Regions from separate parts of the Homo sapiens genome. Here region 1 is linked to region 2. Evidence: fine-mapped expression QTL. Tissue or cell type: subcutaneous fat. Region 2 holds a variant in brackets; the other region holds the start of a gene. All regions are shown on one strand. Distances are from middle to middle.

Region 1 (8,104 bases), 120 kb before region 2:
TAATACTTCAACATGTCATATTACAGCTGTTACCCGTTACAAGGAAATTCCTTGGTGGACCCTCCAGATCAGTCTTTTTTTTTTTTTTAATTCCTCGTTTTCATCCCTAGTTGACTCTACCGCCTCTCCGTATATGCAGCTCCAGACGTTTCCCACTCCACTCAGGGTCCCGATTATCAACTCCCACAGCTTCCCTCAGCAGAATTTACCGGCTTTCTTTTTCTCTTTCTCTCTCTCTCTGTCTCTCTCTCTTCTTCCTCCTCTCCCTCTCTCCTCTGTTTCTGTCTCTGTCTGTCTCCCTCTCTCCTCTCTCTCTCTCCTTCCCTCTCCTCTATGAGAAAGAAGGGCGACTTTCCATTGAGTTCCATTGAGTTCTCTTGAATTAGTCCTTTTCAGTACCCTCCGGGAATTGACTCCATCACTTTACCCCTGCATTTTTGTTTTGTTTTGTTTTCTGTTTTGTTGGTTTTTGGGGTTTTTTAAAGTTGTTTGTTTTTTGTTTTTTGAGACGGAATCTCGCCCTGTTTTGTTGCCCAGGCTGAAGTGCAGTGGCGCACTCTTAGCTCACTGCCACCTCTGCCTCCTGGGTTCAAGTGATTCTCCTGCCTCAGCCTCCCGAGTAGCTGAGATTACAGGCGTCTGCCACTACACCTGGCTAATTTTTTGTATTTTTAGTAGAGACAGAGTTTCACCATGTTGGCCAGGCTGGTCTTGAACTCCTGACCCCAGGTGATCCGCCTGTCTCAGCCTCCCAAAGTGCTGGGATTACAAGCATGAGCCACCGGGCCTGGCCTTTGTTTTTGAGACAGGGCCTCACTCTGTTGCCCAGGCTGAAGTGCAGTGGCACAATCACTGCTCACTGGAGCCTCAACTTCCACAGCTCAAGTGATCCTCCCACCTCAGCCTCCCGAGTAGCTGGGACTACAGGTGTGTGCCCCCCACACCCAGCTTACTTCTTTTTTTTTTTTCTGTAGAGACAGGGTCTCCCTTTGTTACCCAGGCTGGTCTCAAACCCCTGGAGTCAAAAGAGATCCTCCCGCCTCAGTCTCACAAAGTACTGAGATTATAGACGTGAGAGACGGCACCCTGTCTGCATCTTGTTAACTTCAAGTTATACCTCTCCATAAACTCTGTCTCTTTGGTTTTAACATATACTCAACTTTCCCCTGCAAAACAAACCTTACTTCCCTTGACCTAACTTTCATATTACAGTCCCATTCATTTCTCCTCTTCTCCACAAGACTTCTTAATGGAAATCTCCACATTTGCTGCCCACATATCCTCATCTCCCCGTCATTGTCCAGTTCATTGTGGCCTGTCTTCTACTTTCTCCACTTTATTTAACTACAAAGCTACCAGTGACTTTCCAAAGACAAAAGCTTCATTTTTTCAGCCTACTCATGTGACATTACTGATTATCCACCCACTTAGAATGCTCTTCTCAGTTCTCCTGTGCCCTCTTGGTTTCTTCTTTCATGTTCTTGCTCCATCTTCTTCCAAGTCTGGCATTTATCTTTTCCCCATCTACTCCCTAAATTTAAGTGTTTTCTGAAGCCCTCTTATTTCATATATATGTGTGTGTGTGTGTGTGTGTGTGTGTGTGTGTGTGTGTGTGTGTAGTTCCAGACATTCTCTTCTTTAATGATTTCAACCAAATGCTGAAATTTCAGGTTTCACCTGTGTTTAAATGACAGCCAGCTTAGCTTTAGTCTTTCTCATTAGTTACAGACTCAAATTTCAGGACTGCCCATTTGACACCTCCACAAGATTGTTCCTTAGGAACCTCAAATTCTGTAAGACAACATAAACTCTGATCCTCTCCCATTCTCAAATCTGCCTCTCCAGTGTGCCCTTGCATGCTCACAGCATCAGTCTTCCATGCTTCCCTCTTTGTTGCCTCTTCCTTCTAACTAATCACAAGTTTTATTGAGTTTTCTTCCTTTTTTTCTTTGAGACAGTCTTGCTCTGTCATCCAGATGGGGGTGGAGTGGCGCGATCTCAGCTCACTGCAACCTCTGCCTCTCAGGTTCAAGCAATCCTCCTGCCTTGGCCTCCCTAGTAGCTGGAAGTACAGGTGTGCACCACCACGCCCAACTAATTTCTGTATTTTTAGTAGAGATGGGGTTTCATCAGTCTCAAACTCCTGACCTCAGGTGATCCACCTGCCTTAGCCTCCCAAAGTGCTGGGATTACAAACGTGAGCCATCACGCCTGGCCTATTGAGTTTACTTCTGCAATGTCTCTCATATATGACTCTTCCTTTACATTTCTGCTGCCCCAGGTGAGTTTTTCCTCACTTCTCCTTGGGATGGCATAGCCCTCCTAACTTCTGCTCTTGCCTTCAATATCTGCTCTTCAAACCCATCCTTCATGCTGCAGGCAAAATAATCAGTCTAAATATTTCTCCACCCCCCCCCAGCTTTATTAAAATATAATTGACAAGCAAAAATTATATCTATATTTGCAGTGTACAAAGTGATGTTTTGATAATGTATGCATTGTGCAGTGATTAAATCAAGCTAATTACTAAATGCTTCTGATCCTACCATTTCCCTCCCCAGTAGCTTCTTCTTTACCTATAGAATAAAGTTGAAATGCATAATTTAGCATGGCATCTCTACCTCCCAGATTAGGTCCAGCCTACCTTTTCAGTTTTGCCTCCCCTTAATAAGCCACAGAGTTCAACCCAGTGAGTCTCATCCCTGACTGTGTGTTAAGACTACTTGGAAAGCAATATCTAGGGGTGAGGCCTGAGGATTAACATTTTTAAAGCTTCCCCAAAGATCCTGATGCACAAGCAGGGTAGCAAACCCCTGGTCTAGCCACAACTGGCTACTTGTACTTCTTCATCTCCATGGTACTACATTACTCTAAGCTCCACATACTGGGAGCTGGTAGAGCATAGCATTCATGGGGATTGACTCTGGAACCAAATCCCAGCTCCATCACTTACTGGTTGTGTGACCTTGGATTAAATGCTGTTTCCTCCAAGAACTCTTTCCCTGTCTTCCCAATCAGAATTAATTTGTTTGCTCCTTTGTAATATTTTCTGTCCTTGTTATAGCACAGGGCTGGTTCCTGATGAGCTCTCAATGGATTTTCATGGAATTAAATTATCATGCCATATATTTTATTGTCATTATTTGCATGCATTTGTGCCCCTACACTAAATTAAAAACTCTTTGAGGGCAAAGATTTTATATCATTCATCTTTGTATATCCTAGAGTGCCCCATTCGTATTAGACACTCAGTAAGTTTTGAATTCTATAAACTATTTTTTAAATGAATTTTAGAGAAAGAAATACCATTAGCAAGATACTCTATTTAGAGTTATTTTCAAATATTGCCAAGTACAACATTCAATCCAGCTTGTTCACCACCAACCCCCCACCTCTCAGCACTAAGGTTGTATGATTCTCTAGGATATGGATCCTCACTCTAGCGGGGAACTAGCAGAATGATGAATTTCCGTGCCTACTGTCACAAACCCATATCTCATTGTCAAGTCTGCCAACCTGGCATATTCACATAAGGAGTCTTTACGTTATGAAGAGGTGTAATGTATACAGTCAATCCACAGAGGATCAATAAACACCACAGTTTTCCTTCACACACATGAATCATAAGGGTAGCTGGATTCAAATGTTTACACATCAACTCTAATTTTAACCATCTTCATCCACATCCCCCTTGACAATTCCCTGTTCCCAAAATAAATTCGTGTAGTTTGGCCATTTGGCTTAGATTGACTGACTCAACTGTAATTCTGGAGCCATGAGTTATTTTGCTTGTGCTCTTGCTTTATTTGTGTAGTTAGCTGGTTATTTGTTCAAGCATTATTTGACATTTTCTTAGTAAAGGAGACCGGTGAGTAGCTTCCAGAAGCCCAGAAGCAGACATAACCTCCATTGGGACCTCCTGTGCACTTATGCCCCGTAATCCCCTATTCCAGATTGTTATGACCCAAACTTTAAGGAGAACTGAATGAAAAAGGACAGAAAGGTTAAATGTATCCTACTCAACATATTTATGATGTTTATTTTTTTATTTATTAATTTATTTATTTGAGTCAGAGTCTCCCTCTGTTGCCCAGGCTGGAGTGCAGTGGGGCAATCTCGGCTCACTGCAGCCTCCACCTCCCAGGTTCAAGCGATTCTCCTGCCTCAGCCTCCCGAGTAGCTGGGATTACAGGCGCCCGCCACCATGCCCGGCCAATTTTTGTATTTTTGGTAGAAACGGGGTTTCACCATGTTGGCCAGGCTGCTCTCGAACTCCTGACCTCAAGTGATTCGCCCGTGTCGGCCTCCCAAAGTGCTGAGATTACAAGCTATTTATGATGTTTAATGTGTGCTGTTTGTCTCTCACCTCCAGAATTAAGCTCCTCAGGACAGGGATCCTGTTTTGTTCACTGATGTTTGCCTGGTCACCTAGAACAGGTGCCTGGCACACAGTAGCTGTCAGTCAGTATTTAATTGAATGATTGAATGTATCCCCATGTACTTCTTCGTCTATGCCTTTCTCCTCATGAGAAAATGAGAAGAGGGTTGCGCTTGTTGACTGAGATGCGATGAGGGCTAGGTTTGTGGAGGCCCAGCCGAGTTCCTGGACAGATCCCCAACCCAAAGCTTTTGGGTTGCCGGACAACCGCGTCCTGAAATCCCACCTTCTGGGCGGGCCCGGGCCGAGGCGCCGTCTCTGATTGGTCAGCTGGAGGTGATGGGCATGAGCGACAGCGAAGGAGCAGCTACACACTAAACTTCCGGGCGCGGAGGTTTGCGCGCCTTGGTGAGCCGTTGGCGTGGTGGTCCCGGAGTGATCCTGGCAGCCGGTGGGGAAGACAAGGAGGGTGAGCCGCCAGGGGCCCCCAGGGTGTGCTTCTCAGGTCGATTAGCCCTAAAATGTTAGTAGCAGGGGATTCTGGGAGTTAGTAGCAGGGAATTCTGGTAGTGAGGGAGCGGGACCGGGCATGGATGTAAGGAGGTCATCGGTCCTCAGGTTATTTCCCCAGAAGAGGCTTCAGCGGGCAGCTGCGATCCGAAGCTCCCTCTCCCGGCGTCTGGTTCTTCCTTCACACACACCTTATCACATCCACTCACGTTTCCATTTCCAGGACCTTGAAGTCGGGGAGAGGTCGCAATGGTTAAGGATGGACAGGGGTGGGTGTGGCCCTTTCTGACTCAGGCTTGCGGGTCCTGGAATAATAGCCCTTCACTCTTCTGCTTTCCTGGTTTCTGACAGGTTTGAGCATGGCAGAAGGAAACACCCTGATATCAGTGGATTATGAAATTTTTGGGAAGGTGCAAGGGGTGTTTTTCCGTAAGCATACTCAGGTATGTGGCCTGCAGGCTTTGGGGTGGTAACCTAGGTTGTGGGCATAGGAACAAGGGACGTGTTCTTGACAAATGTGAACTAGAAGCCGCTGGCTATTTGGTAGCTGCATGGCAAAGAGGTAGTTTGTAGAGCAATGAGTATGAAAATGCTGTGCAATCGGTAAAACATGGTGTAAATGGAAGATCACCCTGCTGTTATTATTAGTCAGTGGTGCCTGAGCATCTAGATACACATATTAATGAGCTTCTCTCTTCCAAGGGAAATAGAGGGCTTCCCCAGTGCTCGCCGTTGTGGCATCATCAAACCAAGTCAGGTTTCTTATAGAAAGGCTAACATTGATTGAAGAGCTGGCATTTAGATGACCTGATGTCATGTATATAACATATATAAATGCTTCCTCTGCAGCTGCTGCACTTTCTTCAGACCTCTTTCTCCAAGCTTCCCTCAGTTCTCCACTTAATTTCTTTCTATTCTTTTTTGGTTTTGAAAGAACATTTACCTTTTCCAGCTGACGTTTTTCTTATTAAAAACTCTTTATCCATTCCAGAATAGGTGATGGGAACACTGAATGTGGAGCCTGGTATTCTTCCTAGAGCAATAAAGGATTATTTGAGGGGATGGACAAACTGTTGGCAGCCTCTACCTCTGCTTTAATGTGGCTAATCTTCCCTCAACAGGCACACACAAATGCAAGCTCAATTTACCCTCTGCCTTCTGTAGGTATTGGCTATTGCCTTCCCAGTGTGTCGCTAATCCCACAGATAATGAGTTAGGACTGCAAAACTTCTTTTTTTTTTTTTTTTTTTTTTGTATTTTTAGTAGAGACAGGGTTTCACCATCTTGGCCAGGCTGGTCTTGAACTCCTGGCCTCGTGATCCATCCGCCTCAGCCTCCCCAAGTGCTGGGATTACAGGTGTGAGCCACCGCACCCGGCCAGGACTGCAGAACTTCTTAAGTGTCTCATTCCTGGGACTGTGGTACTTAAAATTCAAATTCTAACCTGGAAGGAATCTTTGAAACATGAATGTGAATTGTCAATACCTCTTTCCCTTTTTCTTTTTTTTTTCTGAAGGATGGTGGCACAGTCACAGCTTATTGCAGCCTTAACCTCCCAGGCTCAAATGATCCTCCTTCCTCAGCCTCCCAAGTAGCTGGGACCACAGGTGCATGCCGCCACACCCAGCTTTTTTTTTTTTTTTCTCTTTTAACAGAGAGCTATGTTGCCCAGGCTGGTCTCAAACTCCCAGGCTCAAGTGATCCTTCTGCCTCGGCCTCCCACCAGTGTGCTGGGATTACAGGCATGAGTGACCATACCCAGCCAATACCTCTTTTTCTTTTCTTTTCTTTTTTTTTTTTTTTTTTTTTTTGAGACAGAGTTTCATTCTTTTTGCCCAGGCTGGAGTGCAATGGCACGATCTCAGCTCACCGCAACGTCCGCCTCCCGGGTTCAAGCGTTTCTCCTACTTCAGCTTCCCAAGTAGCTGAGATTACAGGCATGTGCCACCATGCCCCGCTAATTTTGTATTTTTAGTAGAGACAGGGTTTTTCCATGTTGGTCAGGCTGGTCTTGAACTCCCAACCTCAGGTGATCCGCCCACCTTGGCCTCCCAAAGTGTTGGGATTACAGGTGTGAGCCACTGTGCCCGGCCAATACCTCTTTTTCTAATTATTCAAAAATCATTTCTTCCCATCTGACACTCAAATAGGAAATGACTGTTGAAAACAGAATTGCTGAAACTCACAGCAAGAGCTGTGTTCCAGTTAGCTTTGCTACCAGTTATGCAGGTAAGTTCCTGTAAATTAAGGTGATTGAGATAACAGCTTCAAAGATTAGTCAAAGTTGTTGAGGGAAAAGGGTCAGATAGTGGTATGCATAGCCCATCTTTCTCTACCTGCCCCTCTCCCCAGTTTAAAGAGAGAATAACAGAATGCAGAAAAACAAATATTGATTGGAAAACTGCATATAAAATGACATCTATTTTTTCTTAATTAGGCTTGTAGCTTATTCTTTACTATTTATAATCATTTAAATATATATGTTCATTTGAACAGTTGTTTTGCTGCAATGTTTGCTGTTGATATTATCTAGCCTCTTATTTAAATTCCTTCATTTCTAGAGAAGTGACAAATAATAATTCAGGGACTTTTGAAAACTTGGAATATAATTTACATCCCATAAAACCCATCCTCCTAAAGTGTATAATTTGGTGATTTTTAGTATATTCACAAAATGTTGCACTAATTCCAGAACATTTTCATCATCCCAAAAAGAAACCCCTACCTAGGTTAGCACTCACTCCTCATCCCCTGAGCCCCTGGCAACCACTAACCTACTTTCTGTCTCTATGGATTTGCCTATTCTAGATTGTTGTTGTTGTTGTTGTTGTTGTTGAGACAGAGTCTCAACTCTGCCTCATTCTGTCACCCAGGCTGGAGTGCAGTGGCGTGATCTCGGCTCACTGCAACCTCTGCCTCCTGGGTTCAAGTGATTCTTCTCCCTCAGCATCCCAGGTAGCCGGGATTACAGGCATGCACCACCATGCCCAGTTAACTTTTGTATTTTTAGTAGAGATGGGGTTTCACCATGTTGGCCAGGCTGGGTCTTGAACTCCTCACCTCAGGTGATCCACCTACCTCAGCCTCCCAAAGTGCTGGGATTACACGCATGAGCCACCGTGTTCAGCCTATTCTTGATATTTAATATAAATGGAATCATACAAATGTGGCCTTTTTTTGTGACTGGCTCCTTTCACTTAACATATTGTTTTCAAG
Region 2 (8,104 bases):
GGAGAGAGAGAAGAGTGCCGGAAACTCGTGGGCCACTCCCCAATCCAGGCATCAACTCTTTCTTCCTTCAGCTCCTAAAGATCCGTTCTGGGGACCGGCCCTCCTACGTGGAGCTGACGTTCTCTCAGCACGTTCGCTGCGAATGCCGGTAGGTCTCCGGGGTCGGGTGGGTAGCAAGGAAAGGCCCCCGTCCTCTTGGCAGCCTCAGCAAAGATGGGTCCCAGGGCAGAGGCAAAGGCTGCCCATCCCCGCTGCGGGCTGAACTTTTTTCCAGACTGAGGGAGACCAAGAGGGCAGGACCAGGGGTGGCTACCATTCATTTTGTCCCCCCACCAGCCAGTTTTGCCAAGGGAGCTGGTCCCAGCAGCTGGGGTACAGCTGTTGAGATACTGCAAGGGAAGAGAGAGGGTGGGTCCCTCCCAGCCTCGCAGGGGTTCGGTGCGTGTCGTTCCCCTTCTCTGGGATGGGAGGCAGCTGCCACGGGCCTCTGAAAGAGGTGCCTGGAGGCAAAGACATTGCAAGTCTGAACTTCGTTCTGGGGCAAGCTGTGTGCCCACAGGAGCGGGCAAACGGGGCTGAGAAGCAGCAAGAAGGACAAGCTCGGGTAGGAGAAAAGGGGCAGAAGAAGAGTGACACTGTGGCTTCCTTGATGTTGCAGCACCCCTCTACGGCCCCTCCCAATCCACAGAGCCTCTGACCAGCACCAGTCTTGCTGCCTGTGCTGGGGGCACTTGGAACATTGGTTAGCAGGAGCAACAGGCCTGGCACTGCCAGCTAGGTTCAGGGAAGAGAGAAATGGGCTGAGCTGCTGCTCCTGGTACTACTGGGCCATGGATGAAGGCACCAGACTAGAAGTCCAGAGCCCTAGCCAGGGGCGGCAGGAGGGAAGACTACCACTTATTGTGTACCTATTCTGTGCCTAGCCCCGCAGGAGGCACTTGAATGTTTCTCATTTAGTCACATACATTTATTGAGCACCTACCACATGCCAGGCATTGTCCTGATGGGATGCAGTGGTGAGCAAGGTTCCTGCTCTCATAACAACCCTGGGAGGTAGGCCCTATTGTCATCCCCATTTTACAGATGAGAAAATCAAGGCTCAATACAGTTTCATGATTTATCACAGCTAGTGAGTGTGGGAGGAGGGATTCTGGGCCCTGACCTAACTCGTAAGCCTTCGTTTTTCAGGCTACCTTTCATGGCCATGACCACTTTTCTAATAGCCCCCAGGCTTAGCCTTGCCTCCTGGGCAGGGCTATGGCTGCCCCTTTTGTTGGAGTGTTGGAGACCCTGCCTCAACTTGTTTCCACCCATCCCTCCAAGCCAGAGCTTAGCCATATAACAAGAGCTCGGTAATGAACCCTCCTGGGTGCAATGCTGGGTGGTGACCCAGAGTCACCTTCTCCATCCCCTTTGCCCTGACAGCCACTCTTTTGGGGCAGGCAGATGAAGAGACTGAGGTTCCAAGAGTGTCTGTCACTTGCCCAATATGGAGAGGTACAACCAGACAGTCCCAAGAGGCCCTGGTACCTTGCCCTGGCTCCCAAGGGAGGAACCAGCTGAGGGTAGCATGTCCTGGCCCCAAAGCTGACTGCTACCATGCTGTCCCATGTCTCTACCCACTGTTCCCAGTGAAGACTGAGGCCCTATCCCCTGCCAGGGGCCAGGCAACAGGGACACCTTTCTTCTTGCTTCTGGGCCAACAGCCACAGCCCTGGGAGGCAGAGCCCAGACATGCCTGGTGACTTCAGGGCTGATGCTCCCTCCTTCCTCCCACCCCGTCGCTCACTCCCCATGTTGTTCCGGATGGAGTGGGGCTGTGCCCTGACAGGCAGCCAGTCCGCTGTCTGGCCATCATCTCCTGTCCCTGAGGAAATTCCCAGAATGCACCCTGGAAGGAACGGAAAAAAGCAGCAAAGAAAGTGAGAAAGAAAAAGCAACAGAGAACAGACAGAAACAACCAAATTTGATGCCAAGAGGCTGAGAAGTGCAGAAGCGGGTGGCAGGGGTCCCCAGGAGGTTGATTTGTCCCTCTCGTGGTGGGGTCACCAGAGCCTGGAGTGGGAGTGAAGCCTTGAGGCTCTGGCCACCTCTCCCTTGCCAACTCCATGCTACCCCCTAGTGGCCTCAGTGTCAGCTGCAGGACCAGGACTGGGGATGTCGGAGGGGACCTGTCCGGGCGGCAGGGAGCCCCACTTATTGCTTTCCTAACGTTCCTCTGCCCCTCTCTCTGTCTGTTTCCCTAGGCCTCTGCGGGAGAAGATGAAGCCGGAAAGGTAAGTGGTTTGGCTGGGGCTCGGGGCTATTCTCGGGCCTGCCAGCCTCTGTCCTAGCATGGGGTTCCCCAGCCACCTTGTCCTGACGCTTGGCTTATTGCAGGAGGAGACCCAAGGGCAGGGGGAAGAGGAGGAGAGAGAAGCAGAGACCCACAGACTGCCACCTGTGAGTGTGCGGGGTCCCAGGGATGGCGAGGAGGCTGGGCCCGAGGGGAGCCCCGCCTTGCCGCCAGGGTTAGGTTGGGGAGGGGGAGAGGCAGGACTGAGGCCAGTCTTGGGGGCAGAACAGGGAGCTGCACCTCCTCAAGACTCTAGGGCCCAGGAAGCATCAGTGGACCTTGGTTTTTGTCCCGGCTTAGCCCTAGGTTTCCATTGACCTTCAACAAATCATTTCACCTTTGTCAGCCTAGCTTTTCTCTGTGTAGAATGAGGGGCAGGAGGTCCAGCAAACATTCAGTCACTCTACAAACATTTACTGAGCACTTACTGTGTGTCAGGTACATCTGTGAGCAAACAAACAGGATTCCTGCACATTAGTGTTTACCTTTTAGTGATTAAAAGTCTGTCATCAGCTGAGACGTTATCTGGGGCCACTTCCTAGTAGCCCCGGGGAACATGTGCCCCTCGCCACTGTCTCCCAGGAGTATTTTTGCCTGTGGGTCCCCTTGCTGCTTCTAACCCACTTCGTACCTTGTGGGCAGCAGAATGGAGCCCCAGGCCTGAGTGTGGCTGGGAGAGAAGGATGAGAGGAGGGAAAACCCAAATCTGTGAGAGTAAATAGAAAAAATAAAATATTTCACGTGCACAGTCAATCAGTCACTGAAGAGAGGTGGCTCTCCTTCAGGGGCTAAGCCTCCCCCACGCACGTGACTCCAGGAAGTCATTTCGTGCTATGGAGTGGAGTTGACCCAAGCCCTGACCCCATGAGCCCCACTCCATGAAGACAGGGATCCTGGGGACTGCGCCCCCTAGGGGTTTATGCTCTCATCTCTTTTCTGGGCCCGCGCGGCAATTTGGGAAACAAGCTGGCAGGGAAGTCCATCCAGGCCCGAGTTACCCGCCGGCAGCCGGAGGCAGAAAGTGTCCCGTGGCTCCTGTTCCCAAGGCAGCAGTCTTCAGACATTTCACTCGGGAATCTCCTGAAAGAATTTCAAAAGTGGCCGGGCGCAGTGGCTAACACCTGTAATCCCAGCACTTTGGGAGGCCGAAGTGGGTAGATCACTTGAGGTCAGAAGTTCGAGGCCAGCCTGACCAACACGGTGAAACCACATCTCTACTAAAAATACAAAATTAGCTGGGCGTGTTGGTGCATGCCTGTAATCTCAGCTACTTGGGAGGCTGAGGCAGGAGAATCGCTTGAACCCGGGAGGCGGAGGTTGCAGTGAGCCGAGATCACGCCACTGCACTCCAGCCTGGGTGACAGAGCAAGACTCCGTCTCAAAAAAAAAAAAAAAAAGAATTCCAAAAGCCCATGTGCTCCCTTGCCCATTCTTAAGTTGACATTGAACATTTTCATCAGAATTATAAGTCAAGCCAGGCTCAGTACCTCATGCCTGTAATTCTAGCACTTTGGGAGGCCGAGGCGAGTGGATCGCTTGAGGCCAGGAGTTCAAGCCTAGCCGGGGCAACATGGTGAAACCTCGTCTCTACAAAAAAAATACAAAAACTAGCTGGACGTGGTGCCATGTGCCTATAGTCCCAACTACTCAGGAGGCTGAGGTGGAATGATCACCTGAGCCTGGGAGGTCAAGGCTGCAGTGAGCCGAGATAGATCCACTGCACCTCAGCCTGGGTGACAGAGTAAGAACCTGTCTCAAAAAAAAAAAAGTATAAGTCATTACAAAGGATATAATTTCTGGCATATTATTAATATTTTAATACAAAGCTATTGTAGAACACTCTCCAGGTGTATCCTATTAAATACGCCATTTTAATGTTATACTCACCATCATCCACTTTTAAGAAAATGAACAAGCAGGCCAGGCGCGGTGGCTCACACCTGTAATCCCAGCACTTTTGGAGGCCAAGGCGGGCGGATCGCAAGGTTAGGAGATCGAGACCATCCTGGCTAACATGGTGAAACCCCATCTGTACTAAAAATACAAAAAATTAGCCGGGTGTGGTGG[T/C]GGGTGCCTATAGTCCCAGCTACTCGGGAGGCTGAGGCAGGAGAATGGCATGAACCCGGGAGGCGGAACTTGCAGTGAGCCGAGATCACGCCACTGCACTCCAGCCTGGGACAGAGCAAGACTCCGTCTCAAAAAAAAAAAAAGAAAATTAACAAGCAAAAAAAAAAAAAATACAGGAACACTTCCTTTCATAATTATATATTTACATTGTTTCTTTTTTCCTGGAACTTGTATTTCCATTTCACTCCCCACCCCCAAGAATTTCAGCCTAGTGTAACAGTACTTTTAATTTTCAGAAGTCTTTTATTGATTACCTTGTCATATTTATCTGCCACAAAAAAATGATATATGAGTTTGAATTATTTTAAATTTCCTGTGAGCATAAACCTAAATTAAATTTTCTCCTGGAATAAATTATCAAAATAATTCTTAGTAGCACCATTTGGTCAAAACAGCACAAATACTTCCTATTTTAATAGATGTTCAACATAAAAATACAATCAATTTGATTGGGAATGCATCTCAATGAGATGGATGTGGCTACCTCGTTTCAATTAGTGAATGAATCCATTAATGAATGTTACTTCCTGCCAGACTGAGACAGGATTCTGCATTAATTTAATTCCTGTTTATCATTTTTTTATTGATGAGAAGGTTGAGAAACCATGTTCACATAAATAAGTAAATGAGACTAGATGTCACTCAATTACTTGAACTCCTTCCTTCCAAGTTATTTGCCAGAAATCTCAAGGTGCTCTGCTAAGAACAAATTACTTCTCATGATATCCTGGCTGACAATTTGGTTAAGCTGTTCTTCAGTTTTGTTGAAAGCCTTGGTTACCCAGTCATTAGCCATATTTTCTTTCTCAAGACCTACATCAATATCTCAAATTGTTCTTTTTTTCATGTCCTCAGAATACTTTTACCTGGCAGCAAAGCACTTTATGAGGATTTAGAATGAGCAAGATGTGTTGTGGCCAGAGAAGCAGATCTCAGCCACTGCCTCACAAAAATAATTTTAAGGCAATGTAGACCTGGAGGCTGAAAATGGATTTCTTTAAAACCGTCAGTACTCAGGCCTCACGTGCGTCTAGCGGTACTCCCCTGTTTGGAGACTGCTGTCTTAGGGTAATCAGAGGCATGATTGCATGGAGTGTGATTAGGTTCAAATGTGGCTCTGTCACCGACTGGCCGTGTGACCACAGGCAAGCTTCTTCACCTCTCTGGGCCTCAGTTTCCTAATCTTCACAAGAATAATCAGGGTGCCTTCCTCATGGAAGGTTGTTGAGGGTTAAGAAGACAGTGCTTGGCACAGGGCTGGGCACATGGGTAAGTGTTTGGTGAAGGGTAGCTCCCAGCTTCTCCTCAGCTTGAAGCAAGCAGGGACCCAGGAGCACTGCGCCCTCCCCATGCTCCCTGCCCAAGCTCCTCCTCTGGGCCTGCCCCCTCCTCCATAGGAGGAGACCGCACCCTCCACAGTGTGCTGATACCCGCCCCGTCTGTGCTTGGTCTCTGGCAGGTGCGGCGATGCTGTTCCCCGGAGGTAACCCACCCCTTGGAGGAGAGAGACCCCGCACCCGGCTCGTGTATTTATTACCGTCACACTCTTCAGTGACTCCTGCTGGTACCTGCCCTCTATTTATTAGCCAACTGTTTCCCTGCTGAATGCCTCGCTCCCTTCAAGACGAGGGGCAGGGAAGGACAGGACCCTCAGGAATTCAGTGCCTTCAACAACGTGAGAGAAAGAGAGAAGCCAGCCACAGACCCCTGGGAGCTTCCGCTTTGAAAGAAGCAAGACACGTGGCCTCGTGAGGGGCAAGCTAGGCCCCAGAGGCCCTGGAGGTCTCCAGGGGCCTGCAGAAGGAAAGAAGGGGGCCCTGCTACCTGTTCTTGGGCCTCAGGCTCTGCACAGACAAGCAGCCCTTGCTTTCGGAGCTCCTGTCCAAAGTAGGGATGCGGATCCTGCTGGGGCCGCCACGGCCTGGCTGGTGGGAAGGCCGGCAGCGGGCGGAGGGGATCCAGCCACTTCCCCCTCTTCTTCTGAAGATCAGAACATTCAGCTCTGGAGAACAGTGGTTGCCTGGGGGCTTTTGCCACTCCTTGTCCCCCGTGATCTCCCCTCACACTTTGCCATTTGCTTGTACTGGGACATTGTTCTTTCCGGCCAAGGTGCCACCACCCTGCCCCCCCTAAGAGACACATACAGAGTGGGCCCCGGGCTGGAGAAAGAGCTGCCTGGATGAGAAACAGCTCAGCCAGTGGGGATGAGGTCACCAGGGGAGGAGCCTGTGCGTCCCAGCTGAAGGCAGTGGCAGGGGAGCAGGTTCCCCAAGGGCCCTGGCACCCCCACAAGCTGTCCCTGCAGGGCCATCTGACTGCCAAGCCAGATTCTCTTGAATAAAGTATTCTAGTGTGGAAACGCTGATCTAGTGGGTGTGTCTTCCGGGGCAGTGAGCGTCAGCCGGGAACGGAAGCCAGACAGACCCAGGGATCGGGGTGTAACAGGAAGAGCACAGCACCTTCTCCGAGCCTCAGTTTCCTTATCTCAAAAGCCTCGCTCAGTCGACGAGAGGGCATGTCACAGCTCACGACAACATGTTAGCTTGCTCCTTCCTTCCTCCTTTTGACAGCTGAGGACACTTAGGCCCAAGAAGGTGAAATGGCTGATGGAGAGTTAAGAGCACTGAAGCGGGGGTCAGAGGCCTGGCTTTGTCTATAACTCACCGAGTGGCACTGGGCTTCCCTCTGCCTTCACGTTTCATCTCTGACCTGAGGGGCCTGGCTAGATGGCTCTTCTGGCTTTGACACATTTCTACTGGGGCCCAGGCTCAAGTCTCGGTGGCCCTGGGTGGTCACTGGAGACTGTTCCTGTGGAGGCCACTTCAAGGCTGCCCCGGAGGTCGCCCAACCTGCTTCTACAGCACCCTGGGGTCGCCCCTTCCCTAACGAGGAGCTCCCAAGATGTAGTTTTGTTTCCAAAGTTGAGGAGAGGCTGGTCCCAGCCACTTTTTAACAGCATCAAGAGCACAATCTCCTCCTCTCCCAGGGCTTAGGGCTGCCCCAGCCCAGTGCCGCAAGGACTCCCGAACTCCTCCGGCCCTCCTGATAGACATCCTGGGCTGGGTCTCAGGGCGCTGAACGGCAGCACGTATAGCCTGCTCGGGCTGCTGAACAGACGCAAGGACCAGCAGATGCTGCCCGGATTTCTCTGCCTTTTACCCCCCAGTTCCTTCCGTCTTCCTCCTCAGTGCTTTGGCAGGAAAAAAATAAATCTTCTTATTATTTTTTAATGGTTTTTTTTTTGAGACGGAGTCTCCTTCTGTCGCCCAGGCTGGAGTGCAGTGCCACAATCTCGGCTCACTGCAACCTCCACCTCCCAGGTTCAAGCGATTCTCCTGCCTCAGCCTTCTGAGTAGCTGGGATTACAGGCGTGCGCCACCATGCCCGGCTAATTTTTGTATTTTTAGTAGAGACAGGGTTTCACCATGTTGACCAAGCTGGTCTTGAACTCCTGACCTCAAGTGATCCACCCGCCTCAGCCTCCCAAAGTGCTGGGATGACAGGCATGAGCCACCATGCCAGGCCTATTTTTTTTTTAATCCAAACCACTTACTATCAAACTCCACTCTGCTTCTGACCTGCAAGGGGTGTGTGTGTGTGTGTGTGTGTGTGTGTGTGTGTGTGTGTGTGTCTGTGTGTCTG

Which allele goes with the higher level. Alleles are on the strand shown, and positions count from the first base shown. SD is a standard deviation of normalised expression in the study named.
As copies of T replace C in region 2, the expression in subcutaneous fat of the gene that starts at base 4,777 in region 1 goes up (moderate effect, 0.64 SD a copy in GTEx).

Evidence for each region. PIP is the estimated chance that this variant, and not a neighbour inherited with it, causes the effect.
Region 1: ACYP1 starts here. The variant in region 2 is fine-mapped to the expression of ACYP1 in subcutaneous fat (GTEx, PIP above 0.99). The same link has a PIP of 0.9 or more in esophagus mucosa.

What each region holds. Positions count from the first base shown.
Region 1 is chr14:75,060,697-75,068,800 of GRCh38, reverse strand. ACYP1 (acylphosphatase 1) reads left to right here and starts at 4,777. Exons shown (of 3, transcript NM_001107.5): 1 at 4,777-4,847; 2 at 5,240-5,331. The coding sequence starts at 5,248. RefSeq lists an enhancer at 4,437-4,606.
Region 2 is chr14:74,940,551-74,948,654 of GRCh38, reverse strand. It overlaps PGF (placental growth factor), which reads left to right. Exons shown (of 7, transcript NM_002632.6): 4 at 72-148; 5 at 2,247-2,276; 6 at 2,380-2,442; 7 at 5,922-6,821. The coding sequence ends at 5,949. It overlaps LOC107984690 (a long non-coding RNA gene), which reads right to left and starts at 5,926. Exons shown (of 3, transcript XR_001750826.3): 1 at 4,223-5,926; 2 at 1-3,415. RefSeq lists a silencer at 2,147-2,196. The variant T/C (reference allele first, on the strand shown) is at 4,403.